2 separate regions of the Homo sapiens genome follow, and region 1 is linked to region 2. Evidence: fine-mapped expression QTL. A gene starts in region 2. The other region holds a variant in brackets. All regions are shown on one strand. Distances are between the middles of the regions.

What was found. PIP is the estimated chance that this variant, and not a neighbour inherited with it, causes the effect.
Region 1: its variant is fine-mapped to the expression of ADAP1 in whole blood (TOPMed, PIP above 0.99).

The regions. Positions count from the first base shown.
Region 1 is chr7:906,021-914,720 of GRCh38, reverse strand. All of the region lies in intron 4 of ADAP1 (ArfGAP with dual PH domains 1), which reads left to right. Among named protein-coding and RNA genes, the nearest start is that of GET4, 34 kb to the right of the region's middle. RefSeq lists a silencer at 5,587-5,806 and an enhancer at 6,321-7,019. The variant G/C (reference allele first, on the strand shown) is at 3,790.
Region 2 is chr7:949,620-958,319 of GRCh38, reverse strand. ADAP1 (ArfGAP with dual PH domains 1) reads left to right here and starts at 3,640. Exons shown (of 11, transcript NM_006869.4): 1 at 3,640-3,924. The coding sequence starts at 3,843. It overlaps LOC124901569 (a long non-coding RNA gene), which reads right to left and starts at 3,466. Exons shown (of 2, transcript XR_007060178.1): 1 at 3,056-3,466; 2 at 2,830-2,952. RefSeq lists silencers at 33-92, 3,334-3,433, 3,289-3,444, 3,464-3,953, 4,244-4,453 and enhancers at 2,747-3,356, 4,579-5,190, 8,120-8,700.

The DNA of each region.
Region 1 (8,700 bases), 44 kb after region 2:
GTGTTCAGGGGCTCCAGGGCACCTCTCCCACAGACCTAGCTGCCCGCTGCTATTTGGAACCCTAGGTTCTGCCCTTTGCTGGATGGATGAGGGAGCAGGTGTCCATCTGGTGCTCAGGGTTAGACCTCAGGGACCCCCCGAGCCTCCCCATGGCCCCCACCCTGAGCCCATGTCTGGGTGGGTGCAGCAGCAGGAGAGGACGTGTCCTCCTGTCTGGGGCGGCCCCGTGGGCAGAGCCTCCTCCACAGGGCTCCAGCGCCAGTTGGCAGTTCCCGGGCCTCCCAACCCCTCCCAGAGTGCACTGGGGATTCCCGGCGGCGTTCCTGCCCTGCTCCCTGGCTTTGCCACCAGAGCCCTTTATCACGGCAGTGGCGACACCTCACGACCACAGGGAAATATAGAAGTCCCTGCGGCAGGGCCCGGGAGGAAGGGGAAGCTCGGGGCTTGGGAAGGGCCTGCCACACCCACAACCCCACGTTGGCCAGGTGAGGCCTGGGCCAGGTGGCTCCCGCTCTGCACAGAGGAGTGGCTGCAGGTCTGCCCTGGAATGAGCCGGAACCAAGAACTCCTAGAGGCTGTGCCACGCCCAGTGCCCACAGCCTGCACCTTGGCTGTGGGTGGAAATGGCCGGGTTGTTCTCACAGGGCGGGGGCCCCAGATGTCCTGTGTGTGGGCCACGCCACCCAGGACCATGGCTGAGGAAGGCGGAGCCCCACTCCATCCCTCTGTTAGGCCACCCAAAAGGAAGGATCACCACCGGGCTTTTCTGAAGGAGTTTTTTGTTTGTTTGTTTTTTCCTGCTCTGTTGCCCAGGCTGCGGTGCAATGGTGCGGTCTCAGCTCACCGCAATGTCCACCTCCCGGGTTCCCGCCATTCTCCTGCCTCAGCATCCTGAGTAGCTGGGACTACAGGCGCCCCCCACCACGCCCGGCTAATTTTTATATTTTTAGTAGAGACAGGATTTCATCATGTTGGCCAGGCTGGTCTGGAACTCCTGACCTCAGGTGACCCGCCCGCCTCGGCCTCCCAAAGTGCTGAGATTATAGGCGTGAGCCACCACACCTGGCCTCTGAAGGAGCTTTTAATGGCTAAAGCTGGGGGAGTAATTTGAGCAACAAAAGGAAGATGGTATAAGGGGATTATAACAGGGGAGCAAGGTACACACCCCCAAGTCCATAGACATATACATAAAGAATGGAACAAGTAAAGAGAAAGGGGAGGACCGGGCGCGGTGCCTCACGCCTGTAATCCCAGCACTTTGGGAGGCTGAGGCAGGCGGATCACGAGGTCAGGAGATCAAGACCATCCTGGCTAACACGGTGAAACCCCGTCTCTACTAAAAATACAAAAAAATTAGCTGGGTGTGGTGGCGGGCGCCTGTAGTCCCAGCTACTTGGGAGGCTGAGGCAGGAGAATGGTGTGAACCCAGGAGGTGGAGCTTGCAGTGAGTGGAGATCACGCCACTAAACTCCAGCCTGGGCGACAGAGCGAGACTCCGTCTCAAAAAAAAAAAAAAAAAAAAGGAAGGGGAGGAGGCCAGCAGCCTTTGCACACGAATTCCAGTTAATACAAAAGAAGGCCGGGCACCGGGGCTCATGCCTGTCATTGCAGCACTCTGGGAGGCCGAGGTGGGAGGGTTGCTTGAGCCAGGAGTTCAACACCAGCCTGGGCAACGTGGGGAGACTCCGTCTCAAGACAAAGTTTAATAATTAGCTGGGCATGGAGGCGCCTATGGTCCCAGCTACTCAGGACACTGAGGTGGGAGGATGGTCTGAGCCCAGGAGGTCAAGACTGCAGTGAGCTGTGATTGCACCACTGCACTCCAGTGTGGGCCACAGAGAGACCTTGTCTTAAAACATAAATAAATAGGCCTGGCGTGATAGCTCCAGCTACTCAGGAGGCTGAGACAGGAGAATAGCTTGAACCTGGGAAGCGGAGGTTGCAGGGAGCCGAGATCGCGCCATTGCACTCCAGCCTGGGCAACAGCGAGATTCCGTATCAAAATAAAATAAATGCAAGAGGAGTGAGGGAAGCGGAAACACCTCTCGAGGTGCACGTTGCAGTAACCTGTGGCAGGGAAGCCCCTCTGTGGCCGCTGTGTCTCCCCAAGATGCTCTTTGACGACAAAGGACCGGGGGAGAAGCCCTTGGTGTCGGTGCGTAGCGGAAGGTGCGTCGCTGTGGCCCCAGGTGAACCTCAGCCCGCTGAGCCAGCAGGGCTCCCCCACCCTCTGCGCCGCCTCCCTGGGCCAAGGTCACTGCGTGGGGACGCGCCGCACCCCTCCCCCAGATGTGGGGGTTTATCCTTGTGTCTGAGCCAGACTTGCCCCCCGCCTGCCCCTGGGGGTGACCCTGGTGACAGCTGCTCCCACCGCGGGCTGGCCCCGCCTCGGGCCGCAGCCTCAATGGCGGCTTTCACAGGGGCCTGGACAATGCCTCATGTTGTCCTGAGGGCCAGGCCCTGGTCTCGCTGAGACGCGGGGCTTCCTGCTCTAGGCTCCGGACCCCGTGCTCCTGTCGGAGCTTCTGTGGTTCCCCTGTGGTTCAGGACGGCCCCTCCTGGTGGTACCAGGCAGGGATGGGCCGACCGTTGCCGTAAATGTCACAGGGCAGACGGAGCCCAGGAGGGGGCTGGGGCTGTGCACGAGGTCTGGGGCCTCGGTTTCCCCGTCCATATAGTGGGGACGATGGTGTGCGGCACGAGGGCGCTACTGGGAACATCACCAGCCGTTCCTCGCAGGCAGCGCGAGGCTTTACGTGGCCCATGAGGGGACGGGTGTTTGGGGCCAGGCCAGAGCTGTGGGGCTGCCCCTCGGGGGGACGGGTGTTTGGGGCCTGGCCAGAGGTGGTAGGGCTGCCCCATTGCCCCTCTCTGGGTGGGTGTCGGCTCCTGGCCCTCCGTGGGTCCCCCGCCCCCTTCCTGGCCCTCCGTGGGACCCCCGCCCCCTTCCTGGCCCTCCGTGGGACCCCCGCCCCCTTCCTGGCCCTCCGTGGGACCCCCGCCCCCTTCCTGGCCCTCCGTGGGACCCCCGCCCCCTTCCTGGCCCTCCGTGGGACCCCCGCCCCCTTCCTGGCCCTCCGTGGGACCCCCGCCCCCTTCCTGGCCCTCCGTGGGACCCCCGCCCCCTTCCTGGCCCTCCGTGGGACCCCCGCCCCCTTCCTGGCCCTCCGTGTGATCCCCGCCCCTTTCCTGGCATGTTTGTCTTACAGGAGTCAGGGTTCGCTGTTCTTGGGCGCTGGGGCCCCTGTGTGGGGGCCTCAGGGTTTGGGGCTTGGGGAGGGGGGTACCCTGGGGCTGACTTGGCCCTGAGGGTGGCCCCTCCTGCAGCCTGGGCAGCCTGGCGGGGATGGGGGCATCCACACGTCACTCTGGGCAGGAAGGCGCTGTGGAAACTGTGAACCCGTGTGTGAGTGGGGGGGTCTCTCCAGGCCTGTCGGGGGCCGGGCCCCATGCTGGGGGCTATATGAGAATAGGAACAGGGTGAGAGCTGACCCCAGGAGCCCTCGTCCACCCTCTGGCCTCACCCCTGGGAACAGGGAAGCCTCCCTGTCCTGGCTGTTTGGAGAGAGAGCTCCACGCAGGGCGAAGCTGGGACCTGGAGCCCTCCGCAGGATACGGCCCGCTGGTTCTCAGCCTCTGCCGGCCCCAGACGCACCAACCTGGAGAAGGTGCATTAATGGGTCGGAGAGCGTGGGTGGACGGGCCAGGCAGGGAGAGACGGAGCCCTGTGCGGGCTCACAGAGGAGGCCTTCAACTCTAAGGCCTTACCCAGCAAGGAGACACTGCTCT[G/C]CCGTGGGCTCCGGTGTTTGCCTCCTGAGGGAGGGCAGGAGCCACTAGGACCCAAAGGCCGGAAGCCAGGTCCAGGCCCTTCACAGGGACGGCCGGGGTGCAGTGATCAGGGCCTCGGCCCCGTTCTCAGAGGCCACCCATCCATGGTGCACCCCTCCCTGTGGAAGGCCAGAGGCCCCATGAGATATGGGGATGCAGTTCCCACCCCAGAGGGTCCACCACCCTGTGAGCTGTCACTCAGAGCAGGGCCACGTGCTTCCCTGCCCCAGTTTACAAGACAATTAGCATATAAATCACATACGTGAGGTGTGATTTACATCTACTTTGCATATCCTATTTAGAGTGCAGTCCCAGCTCTGACAAATCCAAGACCCAGCAGTCTCGGGCCAGGCGTGGGGCTCACGCTGCAACCCCAGTATGGTGGGAGGAGAGGCAGGAGGGTCACCTGAGCTCAGAAGTTCGAGACCAGCCTGGGCAACGCAGTGAGCTCCCATCTCTACAAAAAAATACAGAACTTAGCCGGGTGTGGTGGCGTGCATCTGTGGTCCCAGCTACTCGGGAGGCCAAGGCTGGAGGATCACTTGAGCCCGGAAGGTCAAGGCTGCAGTGAGCTGTGATAGTGCCCCTGCACTCCAGCCTGGGTGGGGAAAAAAAAAAAAAAGCCTCGTAAACGGGTGTGGGCTTTATGTGAAGGCTGTTCCTGTTTCCTCGGATTTCACTTCTCTCTGAGGCACGTGATGTGCGCGCTTCACTGTGGTGGAAGAAACGGCCTGGCTGCTTTCCAGGGACTGGGGCACCTTACATCCCCACGGGCAGCGTGGAAGGGCCGGCGTCCCCGCCCACAGTCGGGCGCCTGTGTGTGCACACTGGTTTGGTTTTGCCGTTCTCGTGGGTCATGGCGATGCTGAACGTCTTTCCTGCTCTTAGCCGTGCGGTGGGCAGAAGGGCTCCTCAGAGGCGTCTGAGCAGGGCATGGGGTGTGGACTGGACCCAGCTCCCCACAGGTGGGACAAGACCTGGCACACAGTGGGACCGGCACACAGTAGGGCCTGGTGTGCAGTAGAACCCCCCCCACCCCACACCATAGGACCCGACACACAGCGGGACCAGCTCACAGCAGGGCGCGGCACGCGGTAGCTGTTTGATAAATACTGGTCGAGTCCTGCCCCAGGACTCACGAGTCCTTTAAGAGAAAATGGCCATTTCTGGCCACAGCCCACCCGGCTGTCCAGGACGCTGCCGTGTGAGGGGCTGCTCTGTGGGGAGAAGCCCCGTCTCACTGGCTGTTGCTGGTGCCGACTGGGGGCTGCAGGCCCCTGAGGTCCTGGCCCTCCCCAGCGAGGCCAAGGGGCTGGCCAGGCATGGGGAGAGCAGAGGCTCAGCCTGAGGTCTGGACTGGGCGTGGGGCGCGTCCGGGACCGTGGCCAGCGCCGTCCTGAAATACACTCCTGCGTCGTCATTGCCCCTGGAATGCGGCGTCCTGGCGCCTGCTGTCGGGAGGACCGGGGTTCCCGCTGGCGCCTGCTGTCGGGAGGACCGGGGTTCCCGCTGGCGCCTGCTGTCGGGAGGACCGGGGTTCCCGCTGGCGCCTGCTGTCGGGAGGACCGGGGTTCCCGCTGGCGCCTGCTGTCGGGAGGACCGGGGTTCCCGCTGGCGCCTGCTGTCGGGAGGTCCGGGGTTCCCGCTGGCGCCTGCTGTCGGGAGGACCGGGGTTCCCGCTGGCGCCTGCTGTCGGGAGGTCCGGGGTTCCCGCTGGCGCCTGCTGTCGGGAGGACCGGGGTTCCCGCTGGCGCCTGCTGTCGGGAGGACCGGGGTTCCCGCTGGCGTCTGGACCCCGAGAACACCGGAGCAGCTGCGCGCGTGCAGAGGGGCAGTGGCCTCCCAGACCCCGCGGCCTGCGCGCTTCCGGAGCACTGCTGTCACCTGCTGGGCGCGGCGGGCATGGCAGGGGCGCGTCCCCACCCTGTGGCCTAGGGAGCCCGGTCGCTGGAAGGGGCCCCCGCTGTGTCCTGGGCAGGGGTCTGTGGAACCGACACACTGGACCCAGCCAGCTCCACCCCCGTGGGCGAGGTGGCCCAAACTTGTCGTCTGCATTGGTGACACGGACACGCACGCCTTGGAGGCTCCCCGGGGTGCACACAAGGCCGTGAGCGGCAGAGGCCGGGAAGCGCCGCTGGGCCCGCTGCTGCGATGCCTCCCCGGGCACTTCTCGGCGTCCACCCTCAGCCACGAAGCGCCGCGTCCAAAGAGGTCCTGATGTCGGAGGCAGAGCCGTGGGGACACCCAGCTGTGCCTGGGCAGGGGCTCACTGAGTCAACAGGCGTTCTGAGCAGGCCTTACTTGGGTCTGAGGGACACTGGTGGCCTCGCTCTCACAGTGAGAAGCAGGAGAAGGGGGTTCTTCCATGGGAAGGGGGCTCCTGGCTGCTGCTGTGCGCACGGGGCTGGGGCAGCAGCCTTGTAGAGGCTTGGGGAGCGGGGAGCTCCGGGCAGTGAGGGGAGCAGGCCCCGTCTGGCACCATCCAAGACAGCCCAGGGCCCCCTCCCCGAGGGCACCAGCTGTCCCCTCCCCAACGCCAGGCGTTTTATGGCTTGCATCTCAGCAGAGAAAATAGCCCCTGGTCTCTGGTGTCGGGATGGGGCTGTCTGAGCTGGGGAGGGGATGCTGGGGAGCAGGGGGCTTTGGTGGTCAGGGCTGATGGGCGGTGTCTGCAATCTGAGCCTCTGTCTGGCCTGTTGGCTGCTGCAGGGGGCTGTTTAGCCCCGCCTGGAGCCCACAGCCCCCTCGCGTCCCTGTGGCGTAGGTCAGCAGCCCCTGCCCTCAGATGACCGGGGCTCCCAGGCCACATGGCCAGCAGGATGGGATGCTGTCCCCAAGCAAGTGCTCTCTGAAGTCACTGAGGGGTCACGGACAGGCCCACGGATGCTCAGCAGACGGCCCCACGACCCCGGGAAGGGCCCACGGACACTGGGCAGACGGCCCCGCGACCCCTGGAGGGGCCACGGATGCTCGGCAGACGGCTCCTCGGCAGACGGCCCCGCGACCTCCGGAGAGGCGGCGCCCACTGGGGATGCTTGGCAGACGGCCCCGTGATCCCAGGAGAGTCTGCACCCACTGAGGACCTGCTCGACCCTGGCCACGCAGCTGCTGCCAACGGCGGGACCTGCACGCGACCCAAGGCCTGGCAGACGGAGCCCAGGACACGGATGCTGCAAGCCACATGCTGTTGGGGCGGGACAGCCAGGGCCATAGAAGAAGCTGCATCTGAGTCCGCAGGACACAGAGTTCCAGAGCAGGAGAAAGGACGGGCAACGATAGGAACCACGGACAGGGAGCAGAAGTGGGAGCGGGGCCTGGGGGGGATGGGAACGCCCCTCTGAGTGGCCACACGTGGGTCACTGACCGCAGCTCAGTGACGTGAAGCCACACGTGTTTGTTCTCCCACAGCTCTGGCAGAGCTCCAGGACGATCCCACGGGCCCGAGACTCGGAGTGGGCAGAGCTGGTTCTGGGCTCAGGACGGGTCCTCTGGCCTCTCCCTGGTGCTCCTGGGCTCTGGGGCCCCCTCTGGCCTCAGTTTCCACGGCCACGTCCCCTTCCCTCCTGTCCTCATATCTCTGCCTCCCTCCCCTGTGATCGTCTGCCACAGCAGCGTCCTAACCACCCGTGCACGGTGTGTTTTGCCATAGAAGGTGGCGTGTCCAGGTGCTTAGGCTCCCAGGGGGATGCCCGGGCTACTTTTCTGTGGCTGTGTGTGGTGTGCGTGAGGCCACAGGCGGAGATGAGGGCTTGAGCTGGACTCCCCTCAGATGAGCTTTCCTGAAAAAAGAGGGGATGGCACCACCTGGACCCAGCAGCTGCGGACGGCTGAGGGAGGAGGGAGGAGGCCAGCCTGGTCCTCCCGGGCAGCACGAGGTTGGACCCAGCCCTGCCTCTGCCCATGGTGGCTCTGGCCATGTCCACTCAGGATGGGGAGGGTCCCTGGGGGCCAGTAAAGGACAGCTGGAGTCCCGCTCATCCAGGCCGTCCTCAGGCTGGCTTGGGCCAGGGTTGCAGCCAACAGCGCTGGTCCACTGTCATATCCCCTCACCAACCATCCACCATCACCATCTGACCCATGTCCCCCCATGTCCCCTGTCCCGTCCCCCGTGTCCCCTGTCCCCCATGTCCCCTGTCCATGTCCCCTATGTACTCTGTCCCCCATGTCCCGTCCCCGATGTCCCGTCCCCCATGTCCATGTCCCCCGTGTCCCCTGTCCATGTCCCCTTTCCCGCCCCCTTTCTCCTTTCCCTTTCTCCTTTCTCCTTTCTCCTTTCCCTTTCTCCCTTTCTCCCTTCTCCTTTCTCCTTTCTCCTTTCCCTTTCTCCTTTCCCTTTCTCCCTTTCTCCCTTCTCCTTTCTCCTTTCCCTTTCTCCTTTCTCCTTTCTCCCTTTCTCCTTTCCCTTTCTCCTTTCTCCTTTCTCCTTTCTCCTTTCCCTTTCTCCTTTCTCCTTTCTCCTTTCTCCTTTCCCTTTCTCCCTTTCTCCTTTCCCTTTCTCCTTTCTCCTTTCTCCTTTCTCCTTTCTCTTTCTCCCTTTCTCCTTTCCCTTTCTCCTTTCTCCTTTCCCTTTCTCCTTTCTCCTTTCTCCTTTCTCCTTTCCCTTTCTCCTTTCTCCCTTTCTCCTTTCTCCCTTTCTCCTTTCTCCCTTTCTCCTTTCTCCCTTTCTCCTTTCCCTTTCTCCTTTCTCCTTTCTCCTTTCTCCTTTCTCCTTTCCCTTTCTCCTTTCTCCTTTCTCCTTTCCCTTTCTCCTTTCTCCCTTTCTCCTTTCTCCCTTTCTCCTTTCTCCCTTTCTCCTTTCTCCCTTTCTCCTTTCCCTTTCTCCTTTCTCCCTTTCTCCTTTCTCCTTTCTCCTTTCCCTTTCTCCTTTCTCCT
Region 2 (8,700 bases):
CCCCTGCTTGGCCTGCAGGGCGGCCTACTGAGCTCACGGCCATCGTGCCAGACGCTGTCCAAGCGCAGATAATTTGACTGAATTAGCCCCGGCCCCTGTGCGGGGTGGAGAGGGAAGTGAACCTCCACAACCTCCCCTCCCCTGAGGCAGCTCCTGGTTGAGCAAGCTCGGCTGACTGTTGGGCAAGATGGTCGCAGAGCAGGGCCCAGCCCGGCCTCAGTCCATTTGCCCCTTCCCTGGGGAGAGCCCCCTTCTGCCTGTGCTGAGAGGCTCACCCCGCAGCTGCAGGCCTGGGAGGAGCCAGCTTCCAATCAAAGTCGCCTGCTGGCCTACCACGCGCAGGCCCCGTGCTCAGGCGACGCTGGAGGAGCTCGCCCTGCTCTCGGGAGCCCCCTGCCCAGGGTCTGCTGTGTGGCCGAGTGGTCACAGGAGGCGGCTGCCTCTGGCTCTGGACTAGGGAGATGCTTGAGGAATGAGTGTCAGGGTCCCTGGTGCAGCCGTGCGGGTCAGTGACAAGGGGCAGGAGGCTCAGCAGAGCTTGTAGGCCACTGGGCATGAGCAGGAGCAGGCACGCCGCCTGTCCAGGCCCCTCGCCAGCCGCTGCTGGCCGGAACAGCCTTTGACCAGCACTGGTCTGGGTCTGGCCCACCCTGAGCTATGCTGTTACCTTCCGGATTCTTCCTGAGTCCTGGGCTCCCCTACTGCCCCGCCCAGCCCTGACCACAGCCAGTCAGGGCAGCAGGATTTCAGGACGGCTGTGCTCTCGGGTCCAGGCAGGTACTTGCGGATCTCGGCCGAGCAGCCTCCTCTTTGGAAGAATCCCCCTCAGCCCCGACATCTCTTAGATCTGAGGGGTTCACCCACCTCTGTCTCATCCTCACGCCCTCCTGCCCCCCGAGCAATGCCACAGTTCCCTTAGCGGGATGGAAGGACAGAGAAGGCAAGACACTCGCCTGCTGGAGCTGCCCCACGGAGGAGGCCCCGGAACAGCAGGCAGTAGATGGCCTTGGCTTGTGCCAGAAGCTCTGGCCTGTTGGGCACCGGCTCCCCTGAGGCCTCCCTGCTGCCTTTTCTATGCCTTGTATGATGGCCTCCCCGTCTTTGGGGACCTTGGGTAACGGCTATGTTAGGGTGTGTTGCTTTGTTATATTGTTTTATGTATATTCCAGTCCTGAGGTGTGTGGCCTCCAGCAAGGGATCGAACCTCCCCGTGCCTCAGTCTTCCCAGCTGAAAATGGGGCTTTAATAAGAAAATACATGTCGGCCGGTCGCGGTGGCTCACGCCCATAATACCAGCACTTTGGGAGGCCTAGGCAGGCGGATCACGAGGTCAGGAGATCGAGAGCATCCTGGCTAACACGGTGAAACCCCGTCTCTACTAAAAATACAAAAAAATTAGCCGGGCGTGGTGGCATGCACCTGTGTCCCAGCTGCTGGGGAGGCTGAGGCAGGAGAATGGTGTGAACCCGGGAGGCGGAGCTTGCAGTGAGCCGAGATCGCACCACTGCACTCCAGCCTGGGTGACAGAGCAAGACTCTGTCTCAAAAAAAAAAAAAAGAAAAAAGAAAATACACGTCAAGCCAGGCGTGGTGGCTCAGGCCTGTAATCCCAGCACTTTCAGAGGCTAAGGCAGGCAGATCACGTGAAGTCAGGTGTTCGAGACCAGCCTGGGCAACATGGTGAAACCCTGTCTCTACCAAAAAATAAAAATATACCTGGGCATGGTGGCACCCATTTGTGGTCCCAGCTACTCAGGAGGCTGAGGCAGGAGAATCACCTGACCCCAGGAAGCAGAGGTTGCAGTGAGCTAAGATCGTGCCACTGCACTCCAGCCTGGGCGATAGACCAAAACCCTGTCTCAAAAAAAAAAAAAAAAAAAGGAAAAAAAGAAAAGAAAAGAAAAGAAAATAGAAAATACAAGTCAGGCTATTTCTCCTAATACCTAGTGCTGAGCTGCTGCTATTAATGTTCGTCTGTCTTTATTAGGCGACATTCTCCAAGCTCATGCTGTGTGGTGGATTCCGAGCCTGGCACAGGGACCCAGAGATGAAAATGCCACCTGTCCCCACCCCAAAGCCTCCCGTCTGAGGGAGGAGAAAGACCCATGTGAACGGTTACAGGGAAAGAGCACGTGATGCCACAGGGCACAGATCCCAGAGACACAGACCAAAACGGGCTGCCGCGTTCTGCTTCAGGTAGACAGAGCTTAAGCAGCTCCATGATTCCACGTCAGCTGGAGCAGGGGGACAGGTGCCTTTGGTGGCACTCTGGTCAGTGCAGCCTCAGTGGAGGCCATTCCACATCCCATACCATTGCCCCAGCGATGCCACTTTGAGAGCAAATCCACACAAAACTCTTGCAAAGATGAGGTTGTGTAGACCATGATTCTGATGCATTCAAAACGCTCTAAATGCCCCTATGCCAGTGACTGGGTGAACAAGTCATGGTTCAGTTGAACTTTTTTTGAGTTTGTTTGTTTGGTTTTTTTTTTTTTTTTTTTTTTTTGAAACGGAGTTTCACTCTTGTTGCCCAGGCTGGAGTGCAATGGCGCAATCTCGGCTCGCTGCAACCTCTGCCTGCCAGGTTCATGCGATTCTCCTGCCTCAGCCTCCCAAGTAGCTGGGATTGCAGGCATGCGCCACCACGCCTGGCTAATTTCTTTGTATTTAGTAGAGACGGGGTTTCACCATGTTGCCCAGGCTGGTCTCAAACTCCTGAGCTCAAGTGATCCACCCGCCAGGGTCTCCCAAAGTGCTGGGATTACAGCCGTTAGCCAAAACCCTGTCTCGATAAATGAATAAATAAATGAAAGGCTACAGGCCTCAGACGTTCGTTCTGGAAGGTGCTGAGGAATTTGTTAACAGTGGTTGCCTGGAAGGCAGTGGGGAGAGGCTTTCCTTTTTCAGTCTGGTATGTTCCAGTTTGTTTTCAGCCGGGTGTACTGCATTAACCCTGCAAGAAGAAAATGGAAAGAATTTGAAAAGATGCTGGGGTGTGCAGAGGAAGGGCACGCGAGTCTGGGAAGAGGTGACATCAAAACCAGGTTTTTTGTTACCTGTCAGCCCCCATGTGAAGTCCCGGCGGGGCCCCTCAGCCTGCCTGAGTGGGAGGGGTGCCCAGAGGGTCCCATCTGTGGGTGGTGGGCGGCTGGGTGGGTCTCAGGGGGAGGCTCCGTCTGGGCCCTGTGTGGCCTCAGTGCCCTGGGACGCTGGCGTTTGTCACCTGCTGGCCGTCCCTCCCAGGCAGGGATGGTGTGAGCGCCCTGGTCCTGGTCCGTAGCACAGGACACGCACACCTGCCTTCCACGAGCACCCCCATGCCCATGGTCTTGGGGGGCTCGGCAGGTGCCCTCTGCGCCCCCCACAGTAGGTGTGCAGGCTCCGTCCCACCGCGCGCGGCGGCACGAGGGTCCCACCCAGGCCGGCCAGGTTTTGGGGCGGCCTCGCGCCCAGGCAGGTGGGACGCTGCGCGCGGATGGGGGGCGGGCGGCGGGCGATTTCCCAGCGGGTCCCCGGGGCGCGCGGGCTGGGGGCGCCGGAGCGGCCGAGGGAGGAGGCCACACGCTCGCCTGCACCGCTGGGGGCCGCCCGCGGGCCTTGCCGGCCAGAGCGCAGCGTGCGCCCCGGGCCCCGCGCCGGCACTCGCTCAGCGACCGCGGCGGAGACACGAGCGGCGGCGGCGGAGCCCAGAGGGCGGCGGGAATGCGGAACCGGCGCGCGGGCTGAGGCCGCCCGGGATGGCGCAGGGGCGGCGGCGGCGGGCGGCCTGCGCGGGGCCCTAGCGAGCCGGGCTGACGCTCCCGGCCCCGGCCCCGGCATCGGCATCGCGGGCGCATCGCGGCCATGGCCAAGGAGCGGCGCAGGGCGGTCCTGGAGCTGCTGCAGCGGCCGGGGAACGCGCGCTGCGCGGACTGCGGCGCCCCGGGTAGGTGTGGGCCGGGTGGGCGCGGGGCCGGGTGGGTCCGGGGTGGGCGCGGGGTGCCGGGCGGGTCCTGGGTGGGCCCCGGGGACCGGGCGGGGGAGCGCGGACGCCGCGGGGGTGGCGGCGCTGAACACCGGGCCGGATCGGCGCTCGGATGGGGCCCGGGCCCGGCTGCACCTGCGGGGACCCGGACGTCTTCCCGGGCCGGGCGCAGCGGGGGGGCCCCCCCCAGGACCCCCGGAAACCCCCCTGCCGCCGCCTCCCCTCCCCCGCCGGGCTGCGTGTCTGACGGTCACCGCGGACCGCCCGCCGCGTTGCGAAAGCTCGGGCTCCGCACAGAAAGAGGAAATCGGGGCTGGCTGCAGGGAGGGAACGGGCCGCCAGCCGGAGGTCTCTGCTGGGCTGTGGGGTCCGCCGGCTCCGGGGCCACCTCGCGGTGACGTCATGCCTCACGCCCTTCCCGCACCGGGGGTCCCTGGGTGTGAGCGGCGCCCCTGCCCCCGGCTCCCTGCACCTGGCTGCTCCGGGGCGGGCGCCAGGACAGGTGAGGCCTGGGAGAGGTGGGGCCGGACGCAGGTCCTGGTCCACCCGCCGCCCGCCCGTTCGTTCTCCCGGCCGGGCATCCCTGACTCGGTTCCCAGGTCTGTGGGATTTCAAGGCACTGGAGTCCAAAGGCGCGGAGTCCCTCCCTTCCAGGCCACTGGTCCTGTCATTGGCTGTGAACGGGGCCCAGTGCCCAGACCAGCCCTGCCCTGCTCGGGAGCTGTCAGCCCCAGGCCGGCTGCGCTGTGGAGAGAGGGCCCCGCCGGAGCAGTCCCGCCACCCCAGGCACACCAGGAATCTGGGGGCCAATAGTCTAAGCCCCTCGGAACAAACCTAAACTCACCGGCGGTGACTGAGGCCCCCAGGGAGGGAGCGGGGGAAGACCTTGCATTTGCCTCCAAGGCCCTGGTTCAATATGCAGCCTCTGGACACCCCGGAAAAAGGGGTGTCCCTGATTCCCTCTGGGATGGAGGGGTCTCTGCCAGCCCCAGGTCGTGGTGGCTGCTGTCCAGCTGCAGCTTGGCTGGAAAGGCCACATCAGGAGCTGGGGTGTCCCAGAGGGGAGATAGCGACAGGCTTTTCTGGAAAGACAGGCAGGACCCACGGCCTTTCCATGGTCTCCTGAGACAGGACGGCCACAGGGCCCGTGCAATGGTGCGGTGGGGGTGGCCCCCTGGGCTGGCTCACCCCAGACTCTCTCCCCACAGACCTTTATTTCCTCCTGTTCAGGAACGCTCCCCAGGAAAGCCAGTGGGAAAGGGCCTGGCCTGGGGTTGCTGTGGCCCACGGGGAGGGGAGCTGGGCTTGCCTCTGAACCTCTGCTCCCTGGCCACACAGCCTGGGAGCAGCTTCTCTGGACTCAGGGCCCCTCTCCAGCCACCCTCTGGGCCTCCCAGCCTGGCAGGAGGAAGAGGGGACTTCCTTGGCCTGCTGGGTCCTTCAGTGGTCCTCCCCTCCCAGTGGGTGCAGGTGTGCCCGGCCCACCTGCTAAGCTTCCAGCCTGGCCCACCCCAGAGCTGTTCTCTGCCGTCCCTATGCCCCACGCTGCCGGGTAGAGGGCCGCACCTCTGCCTTTTCAGAATCTGTCCATGACCTCAGTGACTTGTCTCCTCTGTCGGGTAGCGCCATGGAGGGGGGATGCTGTGAGGGGTCACTCTCATTTCACAGCCAGGGAGACTGATGCCTTGCAAAGGGAGCTGTCTTAGGGGACATGAGCCACACCCGGCCGCTCTGCTTGTCCCCGCTCCCCAGGGCTGTGGCCACAGGGTGGAACAGGCGGTGTCAGGAGGCAGGGGGCTGCCTAGCCCCCCATGACCCCATGGCACATCCTCGAGGGCTCTATGCTTCTTTGCTGATGCCAGCTGCTCTGGGGCCTCCTGTACCTGCTGTGGCCCAGCTGGGTGACAAGGAGCCACTCCAGTGTTGATGGGGGCTGGGGTGGCCGGCACGTTCTGCTGTCCTCAGAACACTGTCCTGTGCACTGGCTCACGGCTGGTGCAGACCTGGACAGCAGGACATCAGACAGTCCCAGACCACCTCTGAACGCCAGGCCTGGGGCTGCTGGGGTGGACTTGAGCAGGCCCCACCCACTGGCCGTGTGAGGGAAGCAGTCTTGGGGTCTCTGCGGCCCCCACAGAAGCTCCTTCCAAACTCTCCCCATGACCTGTCCCAATAGTGGGTTCCCCTGACCTTGAACAGGGGGCCTCGCCCGGCGGCCACCCAGAGAGCCTCTCATCACAGGCCTGGCAGGTGGGCGAGTTGGGGCGTGCCTGGACCCACTGTCCTGCAAGACCTGGGTGGGGGTCTCCATCCTGGGAGGGGGTTTGGGGGAGGGAGGGGTGCCTCCGTACATCCTTGGAGCTGCCTGCCAAATCGCAACAGAGGACAGGGACCGGGCGCGGTGGCTCACGCCTGTCATCCCAGTGCTTTGGGAGGCCGAGGCCGGAGGATCGCTTGAGGCCAGGAGTTGGAAGCTGCAGTGAGTCGTGATCACACTCCAGCCTAGGCCAGAGTGAGACCCTGTCTCAAAAAAAAGAAAAACACACATATTGTCCTCTTTGAGTCTCAGGCCATCTGATGCCCCGGAAGGACTGGGGTGTCTGAGCTCTTTTGTTCTTTTTTATTTTAAGGTCTCGCTCTGTCACCCAGGCTGGAGTGCAGTGGCACAATCTCAACTCACTGCAGCCTCTGCCTCCAGGGCTCAAGCAATCCTCCCACCTCAGCCTCCTGAGTAGCTGGGACTACAGGTCCATGCCACCATGCCCAGCTAATTTTTTTTTTTAAGACAGTCTCTCGATGTCACCCAGGCTACAGTGCAGTGGCACGATCTTTGCTCACTGCAACCTCCAACTCCCAGTTTCAGGAATTTGGCCGGCATGGGTGAGGGTGGGAAGAAGGCTGCTGAGTGTGGGCGGGGGCTGGGCAGACTCCCTTCACTCCCCAGGGCAGCGGCCCAACTAGGTTGGATATTTTTTTTTTTTTTTGAGACGGAGTCTCGCTCTGTCGCCCAGGCTGGACTGCAGTGGTGCGATCTCGGCTCACTGCAAGCTCCCCCTCCCAGGTTCACACCATTCTCCTGCCTCAGCCTCCCGAGTAGCTGGGACTACAGGCACCCGCCACCACGCCCGGCTAATTTTTGTATTTTTAGTAGAGATGGGGTTTCACCATGTTAGCCAGGATGGTCTCCGTCTCCTGACCTCGTGATCCACCCGCCTCGGCCTCCCAAAGTGCTGGGATTCCAGGCATGAGCCACCGCGCCTGGCCGGATTTTTTAAAAATAATAATTTACCTTCTCATCGTTTCGAGTGCACAGTTCCAGGGCCTTGAGCACGTTCACTCACCGTGCCACCGCCACCACCATCATCTCCAGAACCTCCTCATCTTCCCAAACTGAAGCTCTGTCCCCATTCAACAAGGGCTCCAGATTTCCTCTCCCCAGTCCGGGGCACCCACCCTTCTACTTTCTGTTCTTTTCTTGTTTTTTTTTTTTTTTTTTTTTTGAGACGGAGTCTTGCTCTGTTCCCAAGGCTGGAATGCAGTGGCGCCATTTCAGCTCACTGCAACCTCTGCCTCCTGGGTTCAAACGATTCTCCTGCCTCAGTCCCCTGAGTAGCTGGGATTACAGGCGCCTGCCACCACGCCCGGCTAATTTTTGTATTTTTGGTAGAGACAGGGTTTCGCCATGTTGGCCAGGCTGGTCTTGAACTCCTGACCTCAGGTCATCCTCCCAACTTGGCCTCCCAAATGGCTGGGATTACAGGCATGAGCCACCGTGCCTGGCCTCAACTTTCTGTCTCTATGAATCTTATGACTCCAGGGACCTTGTAGAAGTGAAACCATGCGGTATTCATTTTTTTTTTTTTTTTTTTTTGAGGCAGAGTCTCATTCTGTCGCCCAGGCTGGAGTGCAGTGGCACCTTCTCAGCTCACTGCAAGCTCCGCCTCCCAGGCTCATGCCATTCTCCTGCCTCAGCCTCCCGAGTAGCTGGGACTACAGGTGCACGCTGCCATGCCCGGCTAAGTTTTCTGTATTTTTAGTAGAGATGGGGTTTCACCACGTTAGCCAGGACGGTCTCGATCTCCTGACCTTGTGATCCGCCTGCCTCGGCCTCCCGAAGTGCTGGGATTACAGGTGTGAGCCACCATGCCCGGCTGGTATTCATTCTTTTGTGACTGGCCAGTTTCACTCAGTCTAACGTCTCCAGGTTCACAGATGCTGTGGCGAGTGCTGGGATTTCCCTGCATGTGAAGACAGGATCATACCCTGTGTGGATGAACCACATTGCGTGTGCCCGTTTGTCTGCAGGCGGACACTGGGCTGCTCCCACCTCTGGGCCATTGTGAATCGTGCTGTGTGAGCACGAGGGTGCAGATGTCTCTCTGAGACCCTGCTTCAGGTTGTTTGGGTCTGTACCCAGGACTGGAGTTGCTGGGTCCCATGGCGATTCTGTGCTTACCTGGTTGAAGAACTGCTAGACAGGTTTCCCCTACCTGGTTTTGCACTCAAGCCACAGGCCAGCAGGTCACACGTGCCCGCTTCCTGCCTGCCTGCCCTGTGGCCGGGTGTGGAGGGCTGGTGTGGGCGATGAGCTGGCACTCAGGGCTGGGAGGAGCTGGAGGCCTTTCCCTCTGTCCTGCGCCTGGTGCCCAGGCCCTGGCCAGGCTCCCCCCAACTTCAGCCTAGACTGGGCCCCCTCTCCAAATGCACCGGAGCTGTGGTGTGGGCCAAGGTTACTGC